Linked DNA regions of Homo sapiens. The protein of the gene in region 3 interacts with the protein of the main gene of each other region in a biochemical or structural test. Each region holds a gene or a part of one and is shown on either strand. Other genes may lie near its edges. The genes, in order: RANBP2, RARA, TOP2B and PIAS4.

Region 1 (7,754 bases), on a different chromosome or scaffold from region 3:
GACAGTTTTGGAGGAGCATAATAACCAGTACAGAATGTCTAAAATGGGGCCCGGCGCGGTGGCTCACGCCTGTAACCCCGGCACTTTGGGAGGCTGAGGCGGGCGGATCATGAGGTCAGGAGATCGAGACTATCCTGGCTAACACGGTGAAACCCCGTCTCTACTAAAAATACTAAAAAATTAGCCGGGTGTGGTGGCGGGTGCCTGTAGTCCCAGCTACAGGCTGGGGCAGGAGAATGGTGTGAACCCGGGAGGCAGAGTTTGCAGTGAGCCGAGATCGCGCCACTGCACTCCAGCCTGGACGATAGAGCGAGTCTCCGTCTCAAAAAAAAAAAAAAGAAAAGAAAATGTCTAAAATGGGAGAAAGGAAATTAAAAATAACAAAAGTATATATGTGTGTTACTCAGAAGTATGAAGTATAGCTGTAAAGGGCAGAAAAAACAACTAACAGCTGTCAAAGGTGCCTGCCTGTAGTCCTAAGTACTCAGGAAACAGAGGTAGGTGGATCATTTACGCCCAAAAATTTGATGGCAGCCTGGGCAACACAGCAAGACCCTATTCTAAAAAACAAATAAATAAAAATAAGAGCTGTCAAGTAGACTTTGAGAAGTAGGAATCAGCTGCAGAATAAGAAATCAACTTGACAGAACATAGAAAAACTAAACAGAAGCCATCTGGAAAAAGAAAAACTAGAGAAAGAATTATATTTTTTTTTCTTTTTTTCTTTTTTGGAGACAGAGTCTCGCTCTGTCACACAGGCTGGAGTGCAGTGGTGCAATCTCTGCTCACCACAACCTCTGCCTCCAGGGTTCAAGCAATTCTCCTGTCTCAGCCTACCGAGTAGGTGGGACTACAGGCGCTGCCACCACGCCCGGCTCATTTTTGTATTTTTAATAGAGACGGATTTTCACCATATTGGTCAGGCTGGTCTCTCGGCCTCCCAAAGTGCTCAGATTACAGACGAAGAATATTTTTAAGGGCAAAAGCACATGTGAGGGAGTAGAAAAATGGCAAAACAAGAGAAGACTAACAAATGAAAGCACAATGAAAGACTAGAAAGATATGATATACAGACGCATCATCACACTCCAAAACTCCGACATTCTAGAAAGCATGGGCAGTTCACAGATGGCCAGCCTCTGCCAAACTGGGGGAGAATACTAACCTCTTCATATTCTTCACAGCCACTGCCTCTTCTCCCTCCATTCTTTACCTTCTATCCAAAGCACCCTGTTTTGTCATTTCACTCAAACCTAACTTTACAGAATAGCTTCACATGTTCCAAAGTTACTCACTAGTTAATCCATATTCCGCTGAAATCCCCAGGTTCTAATGTAAATGACTTTAAATTTGGGGGAAAAAAAAGACTCTAAGTGTAAGAGAGGTGTCATAATAACCAATCCTCAAAATTCTGCCACCACTCCACTTTATTTAATGGAGAAGTTATGTAGTTGAAAGAACATTCTAACTTCTGTCTAGACCAGTGGTTTTTAATCTTTTGGAAGCCAAGGTCCCCACTAAGAATCTCAGAAAGGCTCTAAGCTTGCTTTTTTTTTTTTTTAAGCTTGTTTAAAAAAAAAAAAATCAGGCTGAGCAGAGTGGCTCACACCTGTAATCTCAGCACTTGGGGCCAAGGCGGGAGGATCACTTGAGCCCAGGAGTTGGAGACCAGCCTGGGTAACATGATAAGACCCCGTCTCTACATTAAAGAAAAAAGCCGGGCATGGTGGCACATGCCTGTAGTCTCAGCTACCCAGGAGGCTAAGGTGGGAGGATGGATTGAGCCCAGGACGTCAACGCTGCAGTGAGCCACGATCCCGCCACAGCACTCCAGCCTGGGAGACAGAAAGAGACCTTGTCTCAAAAATAAAATAATGGCCGGTGCAGTGGCTCACGCCTATAATCCCAACACTTTGGGAAGTGGAGGCGGGGAAATCACTTGAGCCCAGGAGTTCAAGAACAGCCTGGGCAACATGGTGAAACCCAGTCTCTACCAAAAATACAAAACAAAACAAAACAGCGGGTGTGGTGGGTACACCTGTGGTCCCAACTACTCGGGAGACTGAGGTGGGAGCATCGCTTGAGCTGGGGAGGCGGAAGGTGCAGTGAGTCGAGATAGCGCCACTGCATCCAGCTGGGTGACAGAGTGAGACCCCACCTCAAAAAAAATAAAATAACACAAAAATTAAAGTCTTTAATTTCAGGAGTTACAGGAACCCTCAATTAAGGTCTGTTTTAGACTCTATCATCACATTCATATTTATACTATGCTAGCAGTTTGAAATTACAATGTACAAGTAGATATCTATCCTCCTCCTCTGGAGGAATAGACTGTAACTTACTCCACTGTTCCCAAGAGAAACTAAATCAGACCCACTGCCAAAATTCTGCTGCACTATCTATTTGACCCTGAACAAGTATCTTAAATCTCTACAGGTCTCAATATCCACAGGGCTGCTGGAAGCGCAAAATAAGATAACCTATGCTTAGTTACGATAAGAGACACAATTATGCTACTATTATAATCATGGTCATCCGTGAGTTTCCGGGTTTTTTTTGTTTTTGTTTTTGTTTTTTTGGAGTCTCCCTCTGTCGCCCAGGCTGGAGTGCAGTAGCGCGATCTCGGCTCACTGGAACCTCCGCCTCCCGGGTTCAAGCGACTCTCCTGCCTCAGCCTCCCGGGTAGCTGGGACTACAGGCATGCGCCACCACGCCCGGCTAACTTTTTTTGTATTTTTAGTAGAGACGAGGTATCAACATGTTAGCCAGGCTGGTCACGAACTCCTGACCTCAGGCAATCCGCCCTCCTCGGCCTCCCAAAGTGGTGGGATTACAGGCGTGAGCCACTGCGCCCCGCCAATATCCTTTTAACATCAACAATAAAAAGTGACTTGTAGCTAACATTTAGTGCTATGTGTCAAGCAATACCCTAAATGTTTAAAATGGATCATCCTATCAAATTCTATTAATGTTACAACTCCATCTATGGATGAAAAGTGTAACTGGCCCCAAATACCCAGCTTATAAACGACAGTGCTGTGATTATTCAAGCCAAAGCAAACTGACTCAAGATTCTGCGCACATCCACCTTTAATAGCTTCTTCCGTCACTCTTTAGATCCAATTACTAAAGTCTTATTGAATCCAAAATAGATCACATTATTTACATGTAAAGAGGAAAAATACCCTTAAAACATTTGTGGAAAAGGTTAAAAATTGCAAGCCATACTAACGATTTGTAAGAACTTTAGAATTTTTTTTTTTTAAGCAAAGGCAGCTACCAAAGTGTTCCGGGCGGGGAGGGGGGCGAGGGAGGTGAGTATGAGGAGCGGAGTGGAGCTGGACCCTTACAAAGGGACAGCGACAAACACCTCATACTCAAAACAAGGGGACTTTCAGTGTCATTTGCGCCGTCGGGCCATTGCAAATGTCCGCGCTGAGATGCCTACCTTGTCACTCGACGCAGCCGCCAAAGCTCACCCGGAGCTGCGTCAGTCCCCACTGGGTTCCTCCAGGCCAAGGAGGTACGACCTCCGCCGCAGCATATAAAGTATATGTCCAGGAGATGGGAAGAAACCCGCCGATACAGCACCCGGGTGCCCAAGCCCCCGAGAACTAGGCCGCGCGGGTACTACGGGGTGCGCGATCGGCCAGAAAGCCCGGGCCAGGGCGGCCCCAGGAGCGAGCACCGTCGGGAACAAGCGTCGGGAACAAGCCGGGAGAAAGAGGAAGCGCCGGCGCCAAAGGTCTCCCGCCCACCGCTGTCCCCCCAGGACTCTTCATGCGCTTGCAAGCGCCACGCCGCCCACAGGACTGCGCCAGCCGGCCGGCGCCTCAACAGAGCGCGCCAGGGAGCAGCGCCCGTCGGGAGCCATGACGCCTGAGCAGCGCGAGGCCGCCGCCCGGCCAGGTCGAGGCCGTCGGTCTCTTCGAGACCCACTCACCTGTCGAGGCGACGGGGTGGAGCCCTGCACCGAGGCGATGTACCGCTCCACGTCAGCCTTGCTGCGCCTCATCGCGCCGCCAACCTGGCTCCCGAGGCGCGTGAGACCAGCGCTCAGGCCCGCAGCAGTCGCCACTTCCAAGAGGAAAGCGCCTGCAAACCAGTGACGCAGCGCCGTAGCCGGCGGAGGACCACTGTGACGAACTTGCGGCGCAGCCGGCGGAGGACCACTGTGACGAACTTGCGTACTGCGTCAGCAGTGTGCGCCACGTTGGCGACGTCGGCGCTCGAGCTGCACTCGGCCAGGCTCTTGGCAGCGCCGCGTGCTCTGAGGGTGTCTTGGCAAGCCGGGATCAGATTTCGGCCGCCAGTGTCCACAGCCTAGGGCGTAGATTTCCAGCAGATAACAATTTGCGTGATGGGCTCTTAAGCGTTTTGGTCACTTGTTCTAAATTATAAGTGCGCAATGCATTGGAAGAAAAAAAGCACTCAGGCCAATTTGGTGAACGTGTAAATTGGAACAAAGTTTCTGGAGATGACTGGTTAAATACGTTGCATCGGACATGTGTGAATACTAAAGCATACATTTTTAAATTCATATCTTATTAAATGAGGGCCAGGCGTGGTGGCTCACGCCTGTAATCCCAGCACTTTGAGAGGCCACGGCGGGCGGATCATGAGGTCAGGAAATCGAGACCATCCTGGCTAGCACAGGGAAACCCCATCTCTACCAAAAATACAAAAAATTAGCCGGCCGTGGTGTCGGACGCCTGTAGTCCCAGCTACTCCGGAGGCTAAGGCAGGAGAATCGCTTGAACCCGGGAGGCGGAGGTTGCAGTGAGCCGAGATTGCGCCGTCTGGGCGACAGAGGGAGACTCCGTCTGAATTTAAAAAAAAAAAAAAAGGGAGATTTAGAACTGCATAATGAAAAAGACCACAAATATTAAGTTTTGGACAATTACAATTTTTTAAACAGTCATCTCGGCGGGGGATTGGTTCCAGAACCACCGTCTTATGCCAAAATCCACGCATTCCGCCGGGCGCTGTGGTTCACGCCTGTAATCCCAGCACTTTGGGAGGCCGAGGCGGGCGGATCACCTGAGGTCAGGAGTTCGAAACCAGCCTGGCCAACATGGCGAAAGCCCATCTCTACTAAAAATACAAAAAATTACCTGGGCGTGGAGGTGGGCCCCTATAATCCCAGCTACTCGGGAGGCTGAGGCACGAGAATCGCTTGAAACTGAGAGGCGAGGGTTACAGTGAGCTGAGATCGCGCCACTGCACTCAAGCCTGGGCGAGAGTAAGACTTCCTAAAAAAAAAAAGAAGAAGAAGAAGTCCGCGCATTCTCAAATCCCGCAGTCAGTCCTGCGGGTGGAACACTTAGAGGAAAAGTCAGACCTCTCTATATGCAGGCCCCTCCAATACTGTATTTTCTGTCGGCTTATAAGCGGGCCCAGGCAGTTCAAACCCATGTTATTCAAGGGTCAACTGTGTATATAGGAATAGCCATTCGCCTGGCACAGTGGCTTAAGCTGGTAGCCCCAGCACTTTGGGAGGTCGAGGCGGGAGGATCCCTCGAGTCCAGGAGTTCCAGGTTACAATGAACTGTGATAGCGCCACTGCATTCCATCCTGGGCACCAGAGTGAGACCCTTGTCTCAAAAAAAAAAAAAAAAAGGAAAAGGAATAGCCCCCCCAAATCTATATATATTTCACTAGCAGAATAACAGAACATACCAAAATTTAACAGTAATAATGTAAAGATTTTGAGCCGTCTGTATTTTCCAAATCTTCAAAAATGTCTATTTTGGGAATTTGGATATTAAAATCTTACTTTTAAAACAAAATTTAACAAAACATTTTTAATAGTGAGAACCTTTTAGATTTTAAAAGCTCACATTTGTGTAAACATTACAGTCTGAATTATGTGGACAAATATCAAATGCGTTGACATTTTTAACTGGAAATTTGGGCTATTTTGGTTGTGGATAATTTTTTATCCTTTTTGTTTTTCCATATTTTCTAAATTTTGATATAATGAACAAGTATTGCCTTTCTAAAAAAGGAAAAACAGCATTTTGTTTTATTTCAACAATATTGGATGTGAATAAAAGAAAAGAAAAAGATGATTCTGAGCTTACCAGTGTGTGTGACCCACATTAACAGAAATGACATGTAAAGAAAATCTAGTTTGGAGTGGAAAATCCTATTTTAGGTAGTTGATTTCTTTCACTTGAGGTACCATTTATATATCCATGTGGGGATAGCCTAGTAGGAAGATGAAATGGTAGGACAGAGATCTTGATGGAAGTCAGTAGTTGCGGCACAGTTCTGAGGCCCAGCTACTCCAAAGGCAGAGGGGGAAACATCCCTTTAGCCCAGGATTGGAGACTGCAATGAGTTATGTTCATGCCTTTGCACTCCAGCCTGTGGAAGAGAATGAGATTCCTATCTCTAAAACGAAAAGAGGGCCAGGCACGATGGCTCACGCCTGTAATCCCAGCACACTGGGAGGCCCAGATGGGCTGATTGCTTGAGGCCAGGAGTTCAAGGCCAGCCTGGCCAACGTGTTGAAACCCTATCTCTACTAAAAATGCAAAAATTAACTGGGTATGGTGGTGCATGCCTGTAATCCCAGCTTCTTTGGATGGCTGAGGCACCTGAATTGCTTGAACCTGGGAGGTGGAGGTTGCAGTGAGCTGAGATCGTGCCAGTGCACTCTAGCCTGGGCAACAGAGCAGACTCTGTCTCAAAATAATAATAATAATAATATTTAATTAATTTAAAAATAAAAACCAAAAGAGAAGATCTGATGGACTTAAAAGTCATATATCTCAGGTGATAGGTGAAACCACAAGTTTGCCTTGAAAAGTGTGTTGATAACAATAGCCATAGCTAACAAGTACTTGCTGTGTTCCAAAGCTCTTTCTGTTAGCACTTCATTTGTATTAATATCATTCTTCCACCAACTTTGTAAGGGTACTGTTATTATCCTCAGTTTTTACAGATAAGGAAAGCAAAAGACAGCCAGGCACCATGGCTCATGCCTGTAATCCAAAACTTTGGGAGGCTGAGGTGGGAGGATCACTTGAGCCCAGTAGTTCAAGACCTGCCTGGGCAACATAGCAACACCCTGTGCTTACAAAAAAAAAGAAATTAAAAACTAGCCAGGCATGGTGGTGCCTGCCAGTAGTCCCAGCTATTTGGGAGACTGAAGCAGGAGGATCTCTTGAGGCTAGGTGTTGGAGGCTGCAGTGAGCTATGTTCACTCCACTGCACTCCAGCTTAGGTGACAGAGAAAGACCCTGTCTCCAAAAAAAAAAAAAAAAAAAGGAAACCAAGAGAATGAGCACTGAAGCAACTTGCCCAAACATACTCACCTAGTAAAAATGGTATCATTAATCCATTTATGTTGAATATATCGAAAAGGAGTGCCCAAAGAGAGAACCTTCTTTTTCCTTCTTTCTTTTTTTTTTTTTTTTGAGACGGAGTTTCACTCTGTGGTCCAGGTTGGACTGCAGTGGCACAATCTCGGCTCACTGCAACCTCTGCCTCCCAGGTTCAAGCAATTCTTGTGCCTCAGCCTCCTGAGTAGCTGGGATTACAGGTACATGCCATCACACCCGGGTTATTGTTGTATTTTTAGTAGAGACGGGGTTTCACCGTGTTGGACAGGCTGGTCTTGAACTCCTGGCCTCCAGTGATCCATCTGCCTCGGCCTCCCAAAGTGCTCGGATACAGGTGCCCGGCATCCACCGCGCCCAGCATCCAAAGAGAGAATCTTCTTGAGGAACTCAAAAGACTTTTCTCTT
Region 2 (7,250 bases), on a different chromosome or scaffold from region 3:
GGGCCACTCAGACAATGTCCTCTCCCCCATACTTAGATGGGGTGGCAGGAACCACGTCATGGCATGTGTGGGTGACTGTGCCCAGCGGGGGAGGCACATGGGTGATCAGGATGGGGCTGCCCACAGCTGGCTTCCTGCCAGGCTGCCTCAAGGTTGGGAGTAGGAAGGGGACTAAAAAGGTGTCCCAGGGTGGCAGCCGGTGCATTTAGGGTCAGACTGAAGGGATAGAGATTTAGGGGCTATAGGAAGGAGGATGTGGCCAGGATTAAGCCATTTCAACCCCAGGATCTTCTCAGAACTGCCACTGCATCTGTGCCACCGTCGCCAGTCTGATGGTGAAACCCCTGCAGTGACACCTCATATACACTCAATCACACCCTCAAAATCCTTGCAAATCCAAGATCCTCAGCTCCCAAGAGGCTACTCCAGTCTGACCCTCCTGACCTCTCTTTCAGGACACCACATGGTCCAGACTCCCAGGCAGTACTGATGTCCCAGCTCCCTCCAGCATACCATTTTTCACAGCCACAAACTCCCTGACTCCACAACCACCCCCTCTTATTCCTCCAGGAAGAAGCATCATACAACCAACTCCAAATATTTTTTCTCTTGTTCCTTCCCCCAGCCTCATCTCTACCCGCCCCCCCCGGCCCCCTCCAGGGGAAGCCCCAAGGCTCCAAGCCACCCCCACTCCAACCCGGGGCTTCCCCGGCACAGCCTCTTCATGGAGCCCTGTAGGAGAGTTTGGGGCCTGAGGTCCAATTTCCTAGCAAGACCTGGAAGGTCCTTACAGAACCACTTCCCCCAAAACAATCTTGCCCTATGAAGACTGCAACCAGAGAAGGGTATAAGAGACATCCCAGAATGTCTTGGCCAGGAAACTGAGGAGGGGGAGTGTCAGGGGCAGAAGTGATCCTTGGGGTAAGCAGCAGGGGGTGGGGGGGTCGGGGGGTGTTCTCAGAAACAATCCTTTCCAAGAATATCTACATACACATATGTGCACACAGCCATCAGACAGAAGGCAACCTGGTTACAGAAGACAGAGCCAGAGGGGGCAGGAGGTACCCTTCCAGGCCATCACACTGGGCATCTGATCCAAGACAGGATGGAGGGTGCAGAAACATCTCCAAGGCTGGGGAGCTCTTCTGTCTGGTTTCCGGGTTAGTTGGTCCCCATCCCCACCCTAGCACACTGGAGGCCTGTCTTTCCTTTCGCAAGGAGCAGCCTGACAATAGGCCAGTGCCCAGAGAGGAGATGAGGGGACATAGCCAAGCTCATTTCCCAGCCGTCCCCCCAACCCCACAACAGGCTCACACACACATCTGGCCAGCAGCTTCCAAGCCTCGTGGGTGGCACCAGGTCCCAGACACCCTCAGCAGAGCAAAGTCGACAAGTCAGTCTATTCCGTCTTCCCCTCACCCCAAAAAGTTCCCACACCCCATGGTGGCACAAGACCCAGGAACACCCCTACACACATACTGCATTGGCTCCCGCACCCAATTCTGACGGTTCCCCTCACTCCACGGGGGACACCAGCTGAACCGGCCCGGCCCCCGGCCGGCTCCCTCTGGTGGGAGTGGGCCCCCTGGCTGATTCTCCCCAAACCACAGGGCAGCTCAGATAACAGGAGGGAAAAAGAGAGGGGGCTAGTCCGTTGAGCATCCGATCTCTCCCCAAACAGGTTTGAATTCAAGTCTTTTTGTTTTGCTTATCATTAAAGAGAAAAAGAACAGAAGTTCCCAGCGGCGGTTCTGCAACAGCTCGAGCGCGGGGGACACGCGCAGCAGACGGCCCCAGACGCCTCAAGGCTGCGCGCGAAGACACGGCGCAGGCAGACTCACAGACGGGGCTCCCCCACCCTGGACACGGCGGCAGCGAGTTGGGAAGCCCAGGAAACCCCGGGTTCCCGTCGGAAGCCTCCCGGTACCCAGTCCCCTCCCGCAGCACCAATCTGGGGCAGGACATGGGGCCCCGACGCCTGCGGGAACCAGGGGCTCCCCAAAATCCCCAGGGGAGGAATTACCTCGCAGCGGGGGAAGCAACCCGTTCGGGGTGCCAGCGAGCACAGCGTCTGCCCTAACCCGGCGCCCTGGTGCTGCTCGGCATCAGGGTGCGGGGTCCCGGGAGAGGAGCCGTCCAGGGGGCCGCGGCTCAGGGGCGCGGGGCGATGGCAGCGGCCATAGCGAGTCACGTGCGGAGGCTGAAACTTTACCCGGAGCCCCAGACTGAAGGGGCGGAGGGTACGGAGCAGAGGTAGGGGGAGGCCCTGTCCCTCAGGCCCGCCCCTGCCCGCCCACCGACCAATCACCAGTCAGGGGCGGATCTACAGGCTCACGCCCGCCCCCGCCTCTCCTTAATAGACCTCGGGAAGGGCGAGTCTTAAAGGAGCCACTCCTAGTTGAAGACTGGACCGTGGGAATCCGGGAGAATCCCTCCCTCAGACCCAGAACCGAAGATTCAGAGCAAGAACGGGGTGAGGTTCTGCGGAAAGAATGAAAATAGCGCTCGGTGGAGAAGACCGCAGCGTGTGGTATCCTACACTCCTTTCCCCCCAACCACACACACACCCACACCTAAATCTGAGAAGTGAGGCGGCGGCGTAATATGGAAGTGAGTGCGGTGACTCCTGCCCTAGCTGTCAAGCCCCTGAATCCTATAATTATAATCCTCTTCTAGGGACCAGCTGGAACTGAGAGCTGTGTGACCTTGACCAAGTCACTTCCCTTCCCTGGATCTTAATTATCTCAGCTGCAAGAAAAAGAAAAAAAAAAAAAGAGTCCAGGAGTAGATCTCCCGCAAGTATATCTCTTCTTTCCCCAAACACCTCTGCAGCTCCAGTGGGTCCTAGGAACCCTGGCTCAACCCAACCCTCCCAGCCCCCTTAAAGTACTCTTCTCCTCAAAGGGCAAGACTTTTGGATCTTCCAGTAGGGGCGCCCAGGAGCACCCCTCCGTGCTCAAAGACTCACACTCAAGCTTCTCTCTCCCGAACAAGTCTGGAGAAGCCAGGAAAGCTCTTTTTCATGTTCCAGCTGGACAGGATCTGAATCACCCTCCATCTGAGAGACCCCCAGTCCCCAATACAGTCATGACCCCCCTCCCAGCCTGCAGCTCTGTTTGGGAGGATCCTGTCCCCATCGCTAGCAGTCCACTGGCGGGCTTAGGGGGAAGCAGAATTGCTTAGAATACTCCCCTCTCGCCCTGTTCCCAGGCAGAGAAGTGGCCACAAGTGCCCCCACAGAACTTCCCACTGGAAGGGGAAGTGCTGCACTCCCAGGCCTCCAGCCCAGTGAGGAGACTCTCAGCCTGACCCGGTGGCAGAGCTCTCAAACCCACTGGTCCGACGGACCCCGCTTTACAAACAAGGAAAGAGAGTCCAAGAGCAGGCACTGGGTTTTGTGCACAGTCGCACCGGTTGCAGAGCCGGGTCTAGAATTGAAGTATCTGATTGTCCCTGGCTTTAGCCCAAGAGCCATGGTAAGGTAGGACAAGCCAGGATGGCGGGACCCTTTGCCCTGAGGGCCGGCGCACGGGAAACTGCCCCAGCAGTGCTGGGCCGCGCTTCCCCAGGCCCCTTCCCGCCTGCTGGGCCGGAGCTGTCTCCCGCTCCCGTCTGGATTTCCGTCCGCCGGTGCGAACCTCCCGCCCAGCCCCTCCCGCCCTGTCCTGTCCAGATTCATCCGCAAACATGCGCTCAGCCGGCAGGAATGCGCCAATGGCTCCCAGATGTGGACGCCACCGCTTAACCCCTTACCCCCCAGCCGCGCTCCCCCAAGGGCCTTCCAGCCTGAGCCCCGCCAACAGCAGGGAGCTCTGCCCAGGTGAGAACCAGCCCAGGACTGGAGTCAGCGCCAGCCCGCCCCTAGTGCCCACGGACACCTCCCAACCTAGATCCTACCTGTCTTCCTTCCTTGAGGCTGGAGGGGAAGGCTCATGGACACAAGAATGCAAGCATGCATGCACACAGCTACACTGCCTCCCAAGTGGGACGACCTTCAGGTACACCTGCCATCATAGGGTCAGGCATCCTGGTACAAATGCATTTCCACGTGCACATTCAGGGCAGGGATGTGTACATCCCCGACGCATGTATGCACATCCACGCATGAACAAGTACATCCAAACACATTTGTGCACAGACAAGGGCATGAAGCAGAGGGTGGGGCACACTTCTGCACAGACACAGAAGTAGCCCCATGTGTGGATGAGGGAAGAAATTCATACACACAAACCCACCCCCCGCAGGGGTCAGACACTCAAACAAGACCAGCACCCGTGTGTACAAACACAAAGCATGCACATCTTTGGGGCATTTCCTTCCTGTCCAGGGAAACCAGTACCACCTGTCCAAGGCCCAGCCCTACCCAAGCTTGACTGCAGAAGGCAGGAGAGGTCCCCAGGTGGGGGACCAGGAGTCTTCAATCTGCAGCAGCAGTTGAACTCCAGCTATGCTGGGCTCATAACAGGGCTTCCACCACCCCCTCCCACCAGGGACTCTGATGCAGGAGGAGAGAAGGGTACCCAGGGAGCAGCAGGAAACTAGCAGAGAGAGAAAAGCCACAGGCTCGGGGCGCCTCACTCTAAGAAGGACACTCCTTGGGGCCTACTGTTTCCCTGCACACAGGAGATAGGCTGGGGGAGGAGTCTGAGCCCCATCCCTCTTCAAACTAGAGGAAGTGAAGGAAGAGAGTCTGGACAGGTACCAGGGCCAGTGGCAGTTCTCAGTAGTCAAAAGAGATAAAATATAGCTCTGAGACACCCTAGGAGGGCCCACACTTCTAGTACAACAAGGCTGTCTTCTCACAGCCTGTGGAAACTCCTGAAGAACAGCATTAAGTGATACTCCGAAGAGATGATGAGAAGCAATTGGCCCTCCAAGACCATGGTGCGGGAGTTTGTTGGAACCAGCTCCAGCTGACTCCTCTTCCCCTCCCAAGCCTCCTAGCTCATCCCAAAAGGAGCTCCTCCCACAAGTACCTTAATAGTCCCACTCCATTTGATTCTCACAGTCCTGAAGGGGCAGGCTCCTGTTGCCATTGTAGAGATGAAAAAACTGAGGCTCAAAAAGAAAATTGCCTTCCTCAACGTCATACAGCTTGTCAATGGCAGGGCTGGGATTCAAACCCAGGCCAGGTATGGTGGCTCACACCTTTAATTCTAGCACTTTGGGAGGCCAAGATGGGACGCCAGGAGTTGCTTGACTCCAGGAGTTCAAGACCTGTCTGGGCAACATAGCAAGACCCTGTGTCTTTTTTGTTAAAATAAATAAATATATACGTGTGTGTGTGTGTGTGTGTGTGTATATATATATATATATATATATATATATATATATATATACACATATAAGCATATATATATATATATATATACATATAACCCAATCAATGTTCCCTCCTCAACTCTTTCCTCCCCTACTTACTCCAAATCAAACATGTATGACTCCACTCTGTGCCCTGCTACCTTTTCCTTCACCCCTTAGTGGATCACAAGGGAGAAGCGCCATCCTTGCCTGGCTCTGCAGGTTTATGGGTGGGGCCAGGACATGCCAGAGAGAGATCAGAGAAGACACTGGGGGCTGCACACATAGCCCTCCACCCCCACCACAAGCCTGGTGCCCACCTGCCTAGCAGGCATGGCTGGGTGACTCAGCTGCATCCGGGGGAGATGCCAGGGCAGTGACTCACCTACCGAGAAGAGCTGAGCCTGGCACCTTGCCAGCCCCAGGACAGAAGTGACTTAGTCACCACCAAGACTGTGATGCCCAGCAGGCACAGCCCAAGGATTGCAGACAGGGGCAGACTGTCCCTCCATGGTTACATGCGCCCCCTGGCAAAGAATGGGCCTCAGCATTCTGGGGCCAGCAATGTCTGTGCCAGCCCCTGCCCCCTCACCACTGCCCACCCCCACCACACCAGGCCCCGCTCCAGTGCCAACAAGTTTTGTGAGACCCCTGTGCTGCCCTGCCCCCACTGCAGCCTGCCCATCACTCACCACCCACTCTCCCACCTGCCCCACCTCCTCCTGCCACCCAAGTTGTACCCAGGCTGTGAGTCTCCTTTAACATGTCCTGGCAGCACTCCCTGCCCCCACAGCCCCTCTCACCCTCTCCCCTCATATACACATGCACTCAAACACACTTCTGCCAGCCTTGCTTCTGCCAGCAGCTGCTGAAGTTGTTGAGCAGGAGGGAAATTGGGAGGGTGGGGTGCAGGGATTGAGTTACCAGAGCTGATGGGGTGGGCTGTCACCCAATCCCTTCCCCAGCTCGTCCCCACCCCCACCCCACCCCTCCACCCGCCATATCCCTCACCCACCTGCCTCCCTCCCTACCTCTGGCTGGCAGCCTACTGCCCTTTAAGCCCGTCCACCCAAGCTAGAAAATAAATGTTCAAGAGTATTTGTCATGTTAAGACCAGCCTAGTATATGAGAGAGAATGAGACAGAGACCAACAGAAAGAATAATTCCTGTGCTCAGTGCTCTGGCTACAACCACTAAATATGTGTATGTTGAGCCAGAAGGGGACTGAGCAACTCCGCAAGTCCCAGAAGAGTTGGTGGGGCCCAAGGAGAGTTGACAGGCTAAACAGCCTCAATCCATTTGCACTATTGATTTCTCACACACTGCAGTAGGCTTGATGGGGGGTATGATAAATCAGCCCCCAAGAGACACAGAAACTGCGTAGAGAGAAGGGGAGGGGCTTCTGAACCACAATTGGTGGTGCACCATGACTTGCTTGGTGCGTTGGGGGTGGGCAGCAGAGGAATAGGAGATGTTGAGTGGCATGAGGCAGGGTAGGGGAGAGGGTGTTGGATTAAGGCCTGTCTGGAACACCTCCTTCCAGGTGGGTCTGAACTAATTTGAAGGAAGAAGGTGGGAGACAGATGCACCACGTGTGGCTACACAGGCAGGGCCTTGAACAACCCCAGGGGGTGCCATTCACATCATAGTCTATGGAATGGTTCCCCCTGCAGCTGTGCAGCATGGTGGCCTGTGGGGAGAGCCTGAGGCAGAAGACAGAAAGCAGACTGAATTCTGAGGGACCACAATTCTCCATTGAGTTTTCTCCCCATACACACCCCAACTTGCCCCAACTTTCCCTGCCTCCAGGCCTCAGAGGGGGCCTCCTTCTGACTAGCGATCAGAAGCCAGTAGTAATCTCCCCACTCCTCAGCCCTGCTCCCTTCTTTTGTTGGGGAGATGGGCAAACAACCACCATGACCCACAGGTCCTGGGCAGGGCAGGAGGAG
Region 3 (7,250 bases):
GGACCTGAGACATAGAAGATGACTGAATGGAAGAGGTCAATGTGGAAATCAACATAAAAAGGGATGCGGGGGAGCTGATGTCATTCATTTACCTAAAAGAAATAGTGTACTTCTGGAAAAGGGTCAGACTAATTGGAAAAATCAGCCACAGTCAAATGAATTCAATTAAAAAAAAAATCAAATTAGCCCTGGTCAAATAAATCCAAGTTAAAAGGAAACAGTCTTTAGTCTGAAAAATAATATTTTAGTCTGAAAGAGTCTAATATTTAGGTAGCATAACACTACTACAGTTCAGTGGATGAAATGGAAGGTTCTAAGTAGGTTAATTTATAGCACAGTTATTTAGGAAATAGTCCTGATTATATAAATTTATACTTGAATAATTTCTTAACCAAATACAAGCCCCATATTGATACGAGATGCTAGGTGGAAAGCTGTTCCAGGACTATAGTCATAAGCAAACTAAGTCACTTACAGATCTTTTTTTAAAAAGCCATGCACTAATATGCAATGATGTTCCCGGTTACCTTGCTTGTTGTTTTGGATGTTTTCCTGCCAGGGTTATAATCGCCTTCATTTTCAGAGCCAGATGCTTTCCTTTTCTTTGCCCCTCGGCCTTTACCTTAAAATGATACAAAAGGTTTTTTCTTCCGTGGTTAAGTGCAATATAAAAAGATAAATGCCACAACATTGTAGTTTATTTCTTTGGCATGCCCAATCAGTGGAGCATTGCAGTCCTGATCTCTTACTATGAGTGATTATAAACAATTTGGCAGTAGCATTTCAATTCTGGGGTTGACATGACCAAAGACTTTTTGACAAATACATTTAAACTAGTGGGAAAGTCCCAAAGACAAATTTTAATGATGAATCCCTTCATACATAAAACATTTGTATTTGCTATTTGGTCCTTGAGCCTGAAAAGGAAATATCTTGGAAGAGTACTTCTTAAATTACATGGGATTTAAATATTTTTTTTCATTTCTAATTTGTCATGGGCCAATACTTTTAAAAATACCATAGAACACAAATTACTAAAAAATGTAATCACATGCTGTTTTAGTAACACATTATTATAAAGGTCTAAATGTTTACTCCGTTTTACTTATCAAAGACTAGTAACAACCAATTGCATATCCCACATTAAGTGGCACCATATGAGAACCACCAGTATTAACTATAAAATGTCAAATACATATTCCTTCTCAGACCTAGACTCAGCACATGCAGCATTTTTTTTCACCTACCTAACCTCTTATTCTCATCATTGGAGGTGGAAGGAGAAAAGGTAATATTTAAGTAGGGGCCAGATGTTCTCCATCCCACAATGATGCCAATGAAATAAAACAACTAAATAGCAATTTTATATCTTTAAAATCCCTTGACAGCTAGACTGGACAAGTACGAAGATAGACTTAAATAATCTTGGGATGTCATATTTGATCAAATGAATCAGGGAAATAGCATTTTTGAATTTATAAAGGCTTTCAATCCTGCATATCTTGAGTACTACTTTCCCAGTCACTGTGATTCTTTTCCACCCTATTATCCCCATTTCCCTGTAGGTCTACAGCTCCTTATCCCAACCACTCCTTAAAGAAATATAAGAAACACACTGAGGAAGATATCCTTCAGTTGAATAAAAGGTAGAGCAGCTACCCTCACAGCATGAGCTACCCTCATATCATGTCTTACAAACATATTTTACAAAACATCTTCAAGGGCTTTCCAGATTCTGGAGTTAAAGAGGGGATGCCATGGAGAACTGGTGCTGTTCCTTGTGTGGCCCTGAATACAGTTATTTCTTAGGTGAGAAAAAAAGTTCTAGCCTAAGAGTCCTGGATCTAGCCCATTACTATAAGTGTCACAGTTAGTGTGGAGTACTGATCTGACTTTTTAATAACAACTTTCAGTGAGTTGGCTGCAGGGGAGAATTTGGACCATTCTTAGGGATTCTTATTTAACCTCTTTGAGCCTCAATTTTTTAATTTGTAAAACAAAGTGACTGAACTAAATTGCTATGCCTCCTTTGGACTATATTCAGCACTGATTCCTAGACACACTGCTTACTGAGGAGTAAAGCAATTTAAAACAAAATAGATACCTAGCCTCTCTAAATTCAATGAGGTAGAAAAAATTCAATCTTTTCCACACAGCATATGTTTAAAGGGTTATAAGAAGATAATCCTCACCTTTTGGTGTTGTAGTCTTCTTTGGAATGCCAAATTCTGAATCCGAGTCAGAGTTTACAGCCTCTACTACTTTCTTCTGTTTTGGGGCTCTCTTGGGCTTAGGGACTGTATCTGAAGACGGTTTTCCTAGTAAGCAAATTTCCATTTCACAGGTCAATATACTTACCAACAAACCAAACTGAAGAGAGTCCTATATAAATGGAATTTCTTATAGCTGATTAGAAACTGAGTTGCCTGGCTGGGCGTGGTGGCTCACACCTGTAATGCCAGCACTCTGGGAGGCCAAGGCGGGGTGGATCACCTGAGGTCAGCAGTTCAAGACCAGCCTGGCCAATACGGTAAAACCCCATCTCTACTAAAAATAAAAAAATTAGCCAGGTGTGGTGGCAGATGCCTGTAATCCCAGCTACTTGGGAGGCTGAGGCAGGACAATCGCTTGAACCCGGGAGGTCGCAGTGAGCTGAGATTGCGCCACTGCACTCCAGTTGAGCAACAAGAGCAAAACTCTATCTTCAAAAAAAAAAATTGAGTCGCCTTAAATAATGAAATGGTTTCTCTCTGCTTGGCGGCAATGTAAAGGCAAACAATTTCTCATAGATGACAAAATGCTTTTTATTTAATTATGTATAATTTGCCCTTAGGTAATACAATTAAGACATTTTAAGGAAGAGCCATTAAAATAAATTAAGCAGTAACTTTTAAATACAGAATAGTCATGACAAAAGAGTAGCATATTTGATAAATTAATTATAACCCAGATATAACCACAGATTAAGTCCTAACTTTTAGAATGTTTTAGAGAAAAAAATGTATGGGATCCTCGAATACAATGAATAGAAACCAACTCACTTCCATTCAAAAGCTGAAATCCAGACTTGGCATTTTTATGTGGAAAGAAATATAAAATCCTAGATAAGTAGACAATTGATACCAGGCCTTTGCTTTCTGGAATTTTGAAAAATAGACCTTGTTTTACAGCTTTATCTGCAGTTCTATGTGAAAACTGATAAATAAGGCCAGTTGCAGTGGCTTACACCTGTAATCCCAGAACTTTGGGAGGCCAAGGCAGGCGGATCACTGGAGGTCAGGAGTTCGAGACCAGCCTGCCCAACATGGTGAAACCCCATCTCTACTAAAAATACAAAAAATTAGCCCAGTGAGGTGGCGTGTGCCTGTAGTCGCAGCTACTTGGGAGGATGAGGCAGAGGAATCGCTTGAACCCAGGCAAGGGAGGTTGCCGTGAGCCAAGATCACGCTACTCCACTCTAGCCTTGGTGACAGAGCAAGACTCTGTCTCAAAAAAAAAAAAAGAAAAAGAAAAAAAAAAAACTGATAAATCACTTTTTGTAATTAAGAAAACCTAATTTGGAAGAAAATATATTAACTGTAGACTTTGTTTAAAAAAAAAAAAAAACCTACACTGATTCTATGGAAAATGTATTCCAGTCGCAATTTGAGACACTACAAATAAGGCCCCTCGTTAGCCAAGAGCAGGAGGAGCCCTAGGAAAGTGGCACCCAGATTGTGTGGCTTTTCCCACCTGAGTCTTCATGACTATATCTACCACAAGAACCACAGGGCAGCTCCTAGCAGGGAGTATAAACTTAGCCAGGTGTTCTAGGAACCACTTTTTTTCCTTGGCTTGGAGTTACATGGCACTTTCAATTCTACCAGGCAAACAGGTCAGATATCTGAGTACTATAGCTGCCTTTCTGCTGTAAACTATTGGAACTACAGAATTTAACTTGTGTAACATACGCAATTTGGAGTTAACATAGACAATCCCACAGAGGGATATGATGCATCCTCTTCTTGAAATGATATTTTATTGGAATTATATTTCGTAAGGGAGGCTAAAGGAAAGCTGAGGACTTGCTGGGGTCCCTGAAATCACACCACACAGGCAGTCTACCTATTCAACTTAGACAAGGCCAGTTCAGCTACTGAAGAAGGAAGCAAGTAGGATAGGTACCATGATAATCTAGCTTTTTGGTCATGCTAAACTCATTAGGTTAAATATGGGTGAACAGTTTGATGAAGGAAACGGGGTATGTTTCAGGAAGTAATACGGCTCCCAAGTTTTCAGGGTGTTTATAAGATGCTCATATGAAGATTATTTTTTAAAGGTGCTTTTTGATTGTTCTGTTGTTGTTATTTGAGATGGAGTCTCACTCTACCGTCCAGGCTGGAGTGCAGTGGTGCCATCTCAGCTCACTGCAACCTCTGCCTCCCAAGTTCAAGCGATTCTTGTGCCTCAGCTTCCTGAGTAGCTGGGACTACAGGCATGCATACGCCACCACACCAGGCTAATTTTTGTATTTTTAGTAGAGATGGGGTTTTGCCATGTTGGCCAGGCTGGTCTTAAACTCTTGACCTCAAGCAATCTGCCTGCCTCGACCTCCCAGAGTTCTGGGATTACAGGTGTGAGCCACTGCGCCCAGCCTGATTGTTTTTTTAAAAAAGAGAAATTATAGGGTCCATCTCAATGTGGGTTCCCCAGATTTGGGCCAATCTGCCTAATCCTAGAGTATGGATTCAAGTATAAGTATTTATTTGAGAGATAAAGGAGGGGGAGACAAAAATGAGACAATGAAGAGAAGGCAGCCAGTAATAGGTAAGTTACCAAGCCAATCATCACTCTAGGAGCTTAATTCCATAAGAAATTTTTGAGTCCCAGTGTGAAACACACATCCCACAGTTGGCTCACATGAGAGGCAAGGACACTGAGATATTTATAGACCAACTTTCCTCAATCTGCTAGTTAAAGGCAGCTGGGAGCAGGGGGGTGTTAATATTCCAGCACAGTGGCAAAGAGGAAGTCCTCAGGCAACGAAAGGCAGATATTGCCCAATATGCACTAAGTGGTAAGGGACATGGGTAGGTCACCCAGTGTGTTGGCTACAGAGACTCTTGTAAATAACCAGTTTCTCAATATGGTTCTACTGCATTCAGAATAAGCAGGACTTTTCAAAATTGTTGTTCTGCTACATTCAATACATGTGTCTGTAATGATGTTGTCTGTTGTGAATTTTTAAAATCCTTGAGGGAACAATCCATATTATTTACTTGCTGTCTTAAATAGCACACATCTCAATTAGATTTGTGGGGTTTTTTTTAAGTGTCATCCTTCAAACACAAAGCACAAATACTGACCTCTTTCAAAAAGACCACGGTACATATATCTTGGTACTAGTAAGAGATTCATTAATCAACTCAAAGTGTTTTGTGGCCAATCTAAGGCTGTGAAAAAGAGAGAAGCTGCATGACTCACATAGAAAAAGAGGACCTCAACTGAGCTGACCAATCCCTCCACATAAGGAGTTGAGTCATGATCAACATAGATAACAGAAGCAAGCTACTAGCAAGACAAAATTTTAATCTCCATTACAACCTAACCACAAGGGAGCTTTTGTAGAAAGCTATCTTTAGATAGTAATGCACGGGATTATTTTATAATTACAACAGCTTTAAAATTAAGTCTTACAGAAATTTTATTAACGCCCTCAGATGGCTAGAAAACGAGAGGTTCTCCTTATAAGCACTTATACTTCTTAATTGTTTTATGATAAAAAAATGCAAATAGTTTCAAATTAAATTACATTTCCTTTTACATTAACTATCTCTATCCAATGCTTAACTCAATCAAATATAAGTACATACCCTTTTTAGCAGCTACCGTTTTACTTGGAACTTTATCTGTCTGTTTCAGACCAAATGATGGTGAAAAAACAGAAGCAGAATCTTCTTCATTACTGTCAAATTTAGCTGAATCTAAAAATTGCAAAGCCTTCTTTTAGTAAAGAGATGTTATAAAGATCTCTCAGTAAACTTTGACTCTTTTAACTGATGACTTCCCTTTAGCTAGACAATTGATCTTATGTTACTATTTTGTGACCAAATAATCCACAATATACAAACAGCTAAAAATAAAATGTATCAGTTATACACCAAAAATGTTAACTATGTGGTGAAATAACACAGAAGTGCATAAAGTAGTAAAAATTAAAAGTCCCAAATGCTAAATATTTAAAACATAACTGACCAATTCAAAAATACATGCTGCCAATTTATTTTAAAATGAGATATGAAAATGTCCCACTGTATTATTTTAGTACCTACACAAATAATACTATTAACCATTTCAGGAATATCAGTAATAATGTTTAAATCTAAAAGAATAGTAAGTATTCCTATTTTTAAATAAATTTTTGAAGACTAATTTAAAAGGCAGACAGGCTTACCTTCAGTTTACTCTTGCACTCAAATTAGTGTAATGCGTTCTTCCCTAACACCATAGCACAAACTTTTAAAATAGCTACTTGGATGTAAATAAATATGTTTACACAACTCTTTTGACACACTGTCAAAAATGAGTACGTATACATATAGAATATGTACCAAATATGTCTAAATGTATAGATGTGTGTATTAAAAAATGATAGTGAATCAATTAAGTGACCTTAAAAATTCCATACACAAAAAAAATACGAAACAAGAAGTATACACACTGATTAAATTTGTTCTTATGACGGTTTTAATCTCTCAGGTAACAACCAATCTGCAATCACACTGGTGCCCTTACAGATTTAGAAAACTGTCGTATATACATTCACATTGCCATGAAAATCAAATTTCAAGCTTTCAAAATTTCATTATTTCTTTTCTCTCATTAAAACACTACACATACACTCACACCCATAAACACAGATAAGCATTTGCCTGTCCACCTAAATGCTTCCATAATGCCTATTTTGACCAATTAGTTAGGAATCACCTCAGAAAAAGTAAAGAAGCCTTATTATCTTGAGCAAAATATAAAAAGGAAGTTTTCTACTCATTAAAAATTCTGAAGTTAAATCATGACCTAACGATTTATTTACTGTTTTCTCTCCACCACTAAAAGCAATAATACAATAACCAATGAAAAGACTAAATGAACATACCATCTTCTGACTTCTGAGAATATGAAGGAAATGAGAAGAGATTTCCAAAATCCTGACTTTTTTTGTCATGCAAAGATTTTCTATTAGAAAGAAAATAAACACCACAGAGGATACA
Region 4 (7,250 bases), on a different chromosome or scaffold from region 3:
CACAGGCCACCTGCAGACGCGCCCAGGTCTGCCCTGAGTGCCAGGGGAGCAATGGTTCAGGGGCAGGGAGGCTGCACGGGAGCCTACACCTGAGCTGGGCCTTGAGCTTCCAGGCTGGGTCGGAGGTGAAAACACAGACACCCCACCCCTCAGTGTCTCAGAAGGAGGTAGGGGAGAAGGGTGGGTCCCCAGCAGGCAGCAAGGGAGCCACCCAGCTGGCCAGGGATTGTTGCCAGCCCATGCCTGGGGCAGACAGGGCCCAGTCATTGAAGAACAAGACTCTGGGGTCCCTGCCCTGGGAGGGCTCCTCCCTCTGGGGGAGACCGGGCTGTGCTTCTCTGCTGGGGGCCTGGGAGGTGCCCTGTGCTCTCACTGCTGTGCCACTGGCCCCGGGCCGCTGACGGTTCCCCCCAAACACCCGGCCCCCCTATGCTGGGGAAGGGGCTGTGGGGTCTCCCTCAAACCTGCCCTTCTGCCCTCGGGGTCAGCTGTTTGGGGCCAGAAACCCAGGTGGCATCCATGAAGCCCCCGTCTCTGCTGTCCTGCAAACATCCACTCCCTCAGCCAGTCCTGTCAGCTCTGTTTTCAAATCCCGCCCGGTGCAGACGACTGCCCCCAGCTCTGCCGGTCTCAGCAGCCAGAGCCCGCCCCCTGGGATGGCTCCGCAGGAGACCCCTGACCCTCAGTACCCCTGCTCAGGGCCACACACACCCCGGCGCACACACGGCCACCACCCTGGCCTCCTGCTTGGGCCCCACCAGCCATGCTGCATCAGGGCCTCCGCACCTGCCATTCCCTCTTCTGGAACCTTCCTCCCCCGACCAGCCTCATGGCCCTATATTTGTCTTTGTACAAATGTCACCAGAAGGAAAGCCTTCGCTGAGCACCCCATTTAAAAACCGCACCCCCCGCCACCTCACTTTTCTCCAAACCTTCTCCTCCTAAGGAGCGACTCAGTTTCCCTACATCACTCTGCTGCTCCTTCTTGTTGGGCCACTGAAGCATGAAGTTCCCCAAGGGGGAGATGGTTTCGTGGGCTGCCCAGCATCCAAGGCCACGGGACCAAGGCAAGGGCACCACTGAACCAGATGCACCTTTGGGGCCAGGTGCAAGATCAGGTGACCACGGGGGCCCTGCCAGGCAGAGCCGGTTCTGGGGTGAGGTGCTCAGCCAGGCCCTCCGGCCCGGGCACGAAAAGCAGCCCCTGGGCCCGATCCGAGAGCCCAACAAGAAGGGCCCAGCCGTTGGCTCCACCCAAGGCTGCCAGGGAGCCTCACGAGATGCTGCTGACGATGAATATTTAACGCTGTGAGCAGATGCTCACAGTATGGGGGGTGGTTATAAAATAGCAGCCAGGACACAGCCACACATTCCTACAATCACACATGCAAAGGGAGAAGGCGGCAAGCACCGGCCCGGTGTACCGAGGCGGCCCACTCGGGCAGCAGGGCGCCGGCCGGACTGCTCTGCTGTTGACTCCAGTTTTCTAGGACAAGCGCATAATTGTACAAGTTTAAATAGAAATGAAACACAGGGAGTTTTTAAAAGGCTGACTGGGGCCGGGCCTGGTGGCTCACGCCTATAATCCCAGCACTTTGGGAGGCCGAGGCAGGTGGATCACTTGAGGTTAGGAATTCAAGACAAGCCTGGTCAACATGACGAAACCCCGTCTCCATTAAAAATACAAAAAATGAGACTGGGCGCAGTGGCTCACGCCTGTAACCCCAGCACTTTGGGAGGCCAAGGTAGGTGGATCACCTGAAGTCAGGAGTTCAAGACTAGCCTGGTCAAGATGGTGAAACCTCGTCTCTACTAAAAGTACATAAAATTAGCTGGGTGTGGTGGTGCGTGCCTGTAATCTCAGTTACTTGGGAGGCTGAGGCAGGAGAATCGCTTGAAGCCAGGAGGCTGTAGTAAGCCAAGATCGCGCCACTGCACTCCAGCACGGGCGACAGTCAGACTCCATCTCAAAAAAAAAAAAAAAAAAAGCTGATCGGATGGGACCATTCCCCCTCCAGCTGGCCCATGTGCTGGCCCCCTCCCCAGGCTGTCCCCTCCCCGGCACATACAAGTTCTCTAACTCCCGGACCCACCCTGTCCAGCTAAGAGCTACCAGCACTGATTCCCCAACCCAGGTCCCCCAGATCAAGAGTAGAGGCAGCACAGTCAGGTATGAGGGACACAGGGGGCACTGTCCTGGAGGGGCGGGGAACAGGTGCCCCTGGCTAGGCACAGGGGTGATGCCGACCACTCTACCCATCAGTGAAAACATTCACAGGCTGCCATGGGAGGGGGACCAGTGGGCAGGAAGCAGAGCAGGAGGCTGCAGCCAGCGGGCAGGTTGGGGAGCTGGGCTGGGCAGGGCAGGGGGCCACAGGGGATGGGAGAAGGACTAGCGGGACATGGGGGTGGCTGCTGGCAGCCCCCCATCTGGTAGCAGTGGGCCCATCCCTCCTCTTCAACCTGAAGGCCAAGACCTGGGGCAGAGCTGGCGGAGTCCCCCTGTTCCCCAACCACAGGTATGGGAAGTGCCAGCGGGCTGAGTGGGTCAGACTACCCCACATGTGGGACAGTGACACAGGACGCTCCGTGCCCATCCAGGCCCCCAGTGTGCAGACGGACAGATGGTGGGCCTGGGCGGGCAGCAGGCCTGGCTGTGGAAGGCAGACGGCCACTTGCCTCCTGCACTTCAGTTTCCTCACTGACCCCAAAAATCATACCAGAACCTCAGGGGCGCTGAAGCCCTCGGGGCAAGCAGGGTAGCCCCCAGCCTTCCCCGGGCCCACCATTCTCGGGTTCCAGCCTCTGCCGCCCGCGCCCAGGCTACTGCGTCCCTCCTCCTGGGCGCACCATGTTCTGGCCACAATGAACTCCATTCAGCCCCATGAATGAGCCCTCTCTGGCCATCGGCCTCTGCCCTCACTGCCCTCTGCCTGGAATACGCTCCCCTGCCCCCTCCTCTCTGCCTGGCTTCTTGAGAGTCACCCTCGGGTCTGGACTGAAACGCTGCTGCCTCCAGGAGGCCTTCCTGACTGCTACCTCCTCACAAATGTAGAGTAAATGGCTCCTGCTACTGACAGCTGCCCCTGAAAGCCCTCCGTGTGCCATGAGACTTATCACCTGGCACTTCTGTGCTGCACCTGAGCAGGGACCACGCTACCTTGCTGTGGCCTGGGCAATGCTGGCCCAAGGGCTTCAGAGGCTGAAGGGCACAGGTGCCTACACACAGCACAGCACATGCCAGACCGGCGGCTCTTGGCTGGTACCAGGGCTATCTGCCTCTGGGGGCATCTGGAGTCGTGGTGACAGGGGCTCCACTCTGCACAGCAGGCGGGTGGGCAGGCAGATTCCTCGGGGTGCCCGCTGCGGGCCAAGACCCTGGAGGAGCAGCTCTGTGCCCGGCCAGCATGTATCCTTCCTTCTGCCCCACATTTCCTGACAGCCTCTCTTCCCAAGTACCCTGACAGGAGGGTCAGGCTCCCTAGCCGGACTCCCCAGGTGGCGCAGGCTGGAAAGGGGTGGCGCCGGCTTCCTTGCCGACAGGCAGGACAGGGTTCCCAGCCTGCAGAGGTCCAGGCCAGAGCCTCTGCTCAGGAGCAGGAGCCAGTCGGCTCGGGAGGAGGGAAGGCAGGCCGCTGTGCGACCTTGGGCCGTTCTCCGCACTGTTCTGGGTGCCAGCCCCGTCCCCACACACGGCACCTCCCACTGGAGCCGATCACCTACAGCCTGAGGCCCCTGCAGCCTGCTCTGTGGCTCTGTCACCCCCTCCCCCAGCCCAGCATTCCGCACCGCGTGATTTATGGCTCCTGTCCGCCTGGCGCGGTCTCCATCCTGGAGCCGGCCGGCGGCTATTCCGGGGAAACAGACCAGAGCGGTGGGCCTCACGCTGGACGGTGGGTCACAGCCAGAGGAGGGAGTGAGGGAGAAGCCGGTGGAACTGGGTCCTCCGGAGGCGGCCCCCGGGCAAGGCCAGCACCACAGAGTGCACCCTGGGGAGGGACACAGCCCAGGGTCAGGGCGGACAGATGGCATCTCAGGTCCTAAAACCATGGGGACCACTGCTTCGGGGCCAGGGGCTATGCTCCAGGAAACTTCTGAGGACCGAGGTGGCCCCCAGGGAGTCCCCCAAGAGCACGGAATCCAGGAAAGGAGGTTCACCTGGCGGCCTGAGATGGAGAGAGAGCCAGTGGGAGAGAGAGGCAGGGTGGGGATGGCCTCTTTGTTCTGAGCCGCCAGCACAGGCACACTGGTGTAGACAGGGGAGCAGGCTCTCCCGGAGATCAGGTGACCGGGGTCCCTGGTGGCTCAGGGCACAGCGATGTATTGTGGGACGGAGCTACTGGTCCCCGTGCAGGAAGGAAGCTGGTCAGCCCCGTCCCCCGCCCTGGACCAAGCCTGCCCTGCCGCTCCCAGGAAAGCCCAGCCTCCCTGTGATGCAGGTCCTTCCCAAGGCCCAACCTTCAGAGACAGCCAGCTCTGCCCAAGAACCTGGCAGGGGGAACAGCTTCCCTCATGAGAGAGCAAAGGCTGGGAAAGTCAGTCCGATGGAACTCAGGCCAAGACCCTGAGTCCCCCAGGACAGGTGCCACTGGGCCAACCTGCTCCCCAGGAGGCTGCTGCTAGACACCTCCTGCAAGAGAAAAAAGGTGGAGGCGGAGCCTCACTTGGAAGGCGGAGCCTCAGGCTGGAGGGAGGAGCCTCGGCTGCCGCAGGAACCACCGACAGCACCTTCCTCCCTCCTCCACTTCCTCCATCCTCACCTGGAAGCACAGCCCCTCCAGCCTAACCTCACTAAGTCCCAGGGCTGCAGATGGGAGGGGAAAAGCAGCCAGTTCCCCTTCCCCCTACCCCCATCAACGCTGCCTCCCTGGGCAGGGGAGCGGGGGCCAGCTGGCACCCAATGGACTGAAGCGTGCCAGAGAAGGGCCCTCAGGCCACAGCAGGGGCCAGGCAGGTTGCTGGGTCAGCAGGGTGGGAGGGGGCATGCACAGGGTTCTGAACCTCGTGGCCTTGGTCCTGTTCCCTGCTGCGTGCCCACGCCTGGTGCCCATCACGCACCCACCCAGCAGGCGCTCCGATGTTTACTGTGCGAAGGAAAGAGTGGGGGCAGGGGAGGGGAGGCAGGAAGAAGAGACGGAGAGACCTCCAGGCACACAGAGGACTTGGTGAAATCTGAGCGCCTCAAGGCACAGGTCCGCAAAGGCCCAGGACGTTCCGCTCCCTATCTGGGAGTCCCAGAGGCTGCACACTCTCTCTGCCCTGGGGGCTGGGGCTGCGGAGGCCTCCCTGGCCCTGAGCTCAGGGCTATGGCTGAGGCAGAGACTGGGCTCAATGCCCACCTGCAGCCTGAATGGCCACGGCTGCTGGGGAGGCACCAGGGGCCTGTCCACACTGCTGTGGGCTATGAGGTCCTGACACACAGTTCCTGCTCAGTCAGTGCTTGCAGACAAAGACACGAGAGAGAGAAGCGTGGAGCCCAGCACCTCTCCTCCGCCTGGGATCGCCCTGAACCCCCAGCACGCCCGGTGCACACAGCCTGGCAGTGACCTGAGCCCACTGACCAAGGACACTCCTGCAGGCTGCCAGCGAGGAACCAGAGCCCGGGGGAAGGATGCCACTGGCCAGCCCCCTTTCCAAGGGGAATAAGCAGGGAAACCAGGCTCCCAGGTGGCCCTGGTCACCCCTGGCCCTGGCAGTCACAGCCTGGTGTGGTCCCTGCATGCGCCACAGAGTCTGTGTGAGCAACGGACTCTGTGGGGGAGATGGCGAGGCGTGTCCGAGGTTGGGTTATAAAAAGGGCTCCAGCTCCCAGCTTGGAGGTGCACACTCGCTACCCTAGGGTGAGGGAGCCACCAGGCTGAGGACGCCCAGGCAATCCGTGCAGGAGTCCGCACCATGAGGACCTGGGGACTGTGGCCAAGAGCTGGCGAGGAGCTGAGGCCTGCCAGCCACCACACAAGGATGTGCCTGCTCCAGCCCTGGTCGAGCCTCCAGATGAGGTGGCTCCAGCCTGACTGAGCCTCATGAGAGCCCCCAAGCCCCAATGCCCCGCAACACAGCTCACAGGTTCCTGAGAGCTAACAGACGCCCCCTGCTTCCAGTGGCTCCATTTCGGGGTAACTTGTAACACAGCAAGGGGTGACCAATATCAAAGATGGTCCCTTTGCTTCCGAGGAAGGACACCCCTGGCCACTGTGGCTCCCCGCCCTGGCTGCGCCACAGAGAACATCACTCGAAGTCGGCTGTGTGGCTGGGCTGGGCTGGGCGACGGGGCCTAGGTGAAGCCTCCAGTCGCAGCCTCCCCAGGGTGACCACTCACCTAATTCGGTGGGCTTCAGCAGCTCATCCAGCATATTAAAGAACGGCAGCTTCACCAGGCGGACTTCTGGCTTGAGGGTCTTGGCGGGCAACCGTCCCAGTCCGTTTAAGTACTTTCCGTAGAGCACGGGGTAGTCAATATTGGGGCCTGCCAGCGGAGTCCTGGGCACAGCGCCGGCCCGGTCGTAGGTGGAGTGCATGGTCAGGGGGTCCAGGGGCCGGTGCGGCTGTGGGGCAGGCTCCGAGTTCTTCTTGGCGTAGCGGGTCTCGTACAGCTCCTTGATCTTCTTGAACAGCTCAGGGCTACAGTCAAACTGCACCAGCTGGAGGGCCCTGGTGACGAGCTCGTGCTTCAGTCCACTCTTACTCCGGCCCACGAAACCCAGGAGCATCTGAAGGTCGGAGACTCGAAAACTCATCACCATGTTCTGAGGAGGAGCAAGCACACACACACTCAGAGGACACAGCTGCGAGGCAGGGGACTCCATGGAGGCCAGGCCCCGATGTGGGGGCCGTGAAAGACACCCACTCGCCAGGAAGCGCCAGCCTTGGCTGGGGCTGGTGGAGTGCCCTGCCCCTACGGTGCCCCCTCCCAGCAAAGCCCTGCCCCCTCCCTCCTCCTCATCAAACTTTCCCCAGCATCGCCAACGCAGCAAAAGCGCCTCTGACTAGGCCCCCCCTTCTATTTTAGGTTCTCTTTCCCTGTCTTCAGCCTGAAAGCATCCCCAGGGCAGGAACTGACAATTGTGCTTTACTTGTAAACAGCCTCTGCCAGTGCCTTACCGGCAAACACCAAATGCCTCTCTGACCCTCAGTCTCTACGTCGGGAGGATAATGACATAAAGCACTGGCTGGGCGGGCGCTCAACCCATGTCAGCCACAGATATGTTTTCCCTTCGGTCTCGCCAACGGTAGCCACAGTTTACTTAGTA

What was found.
Region 1: of the proteins of TOP2B (region 3) and RANBP2, one has a biochemical effect on the other in vitro, tested with the Homo sapiens proteins (one study listed by BioGRID).
Region 2: the proteins of TOP2B (region 3) and RARA form a complex in vitro, tested with the Homo sapiens proteins (one study listed by BioGRID).
Region 4: of the proteins of TOP2B (region 3) and PIAS4, one has a biochemical effect on the other in vitro, tested with the Homo sapiens proteins (one study listed by BioGRID).

Annotation. Positions count from the first base shown.
Region 1 is NC_000002.12:108,715,868-108,723,621, reverse strand, and holds the start of RANBP2 (E3 SUMO-protein ligase RanBP2), read right to left. Parts: upstream 4,141-7,754; 5' UTR 4,016-4,140; coding exon 3,944-4,015; intron 1-3,943. UniProt on the Homo sapiens protein: E3 SUMO-protein ligase which facilitates SUMO1 and SUMO2 conjugation by UBE2I. Involved in transport factor (Ran-GTP, karyopherin)-mediated protein import via the F-G repeat-containing domain which acts as a docking site for substrates.
Region 2 is NC_000017.11:40,313,222-40,320,471, reverse strand, and holds part of RARA (retinoic acid receptor alpha), read right to left. Parts: intron 5,280-7,250; exon of another isoform or gene 1,721-5,279; intron 10-1,720; exon of another isoform or gene 1-9. UniProt on the Homo sapiens protein: Receptor for retinoic acid. Retinoic acid receptors bind as heterodimers to their target response elements in response to their ligands, all-trans or 9-cis retinoic acid, and regulate gene expression in various biological processes.
Region 3 is NC_000003.12:25,598,908-25,606,157, forward strand, and holds part of TOP2B (DNA topoisomerase 2-beta), read right to left. Parts: intron 7,216-7,250; coding exon 7,136-7,215; intron 5,964-7,135; coding exon 5,853-5,963; intron 2,319-5,852; coding exon 2,193-2,318; intron 623-2,192; coding exon 528-622; intron 1-527. UniProt on the Homo sapiens protein: Key decatenating enzyme that alters DNA topology by binding to two double-stranded DNA molecules, generating a double-stranded break in one of the strands, passing the intact strand through the broken strand, and religating the broken strand.
Region 4 is NC_000019.10:4,012,419-4,019,668, reverse strand, and holds part of PIAS4 (E3 SUMO-protein ligase PIAS4), read right to left. Parts: intron 6,747-7,250; coding exon 6,320-6,746; intron 1-6,319.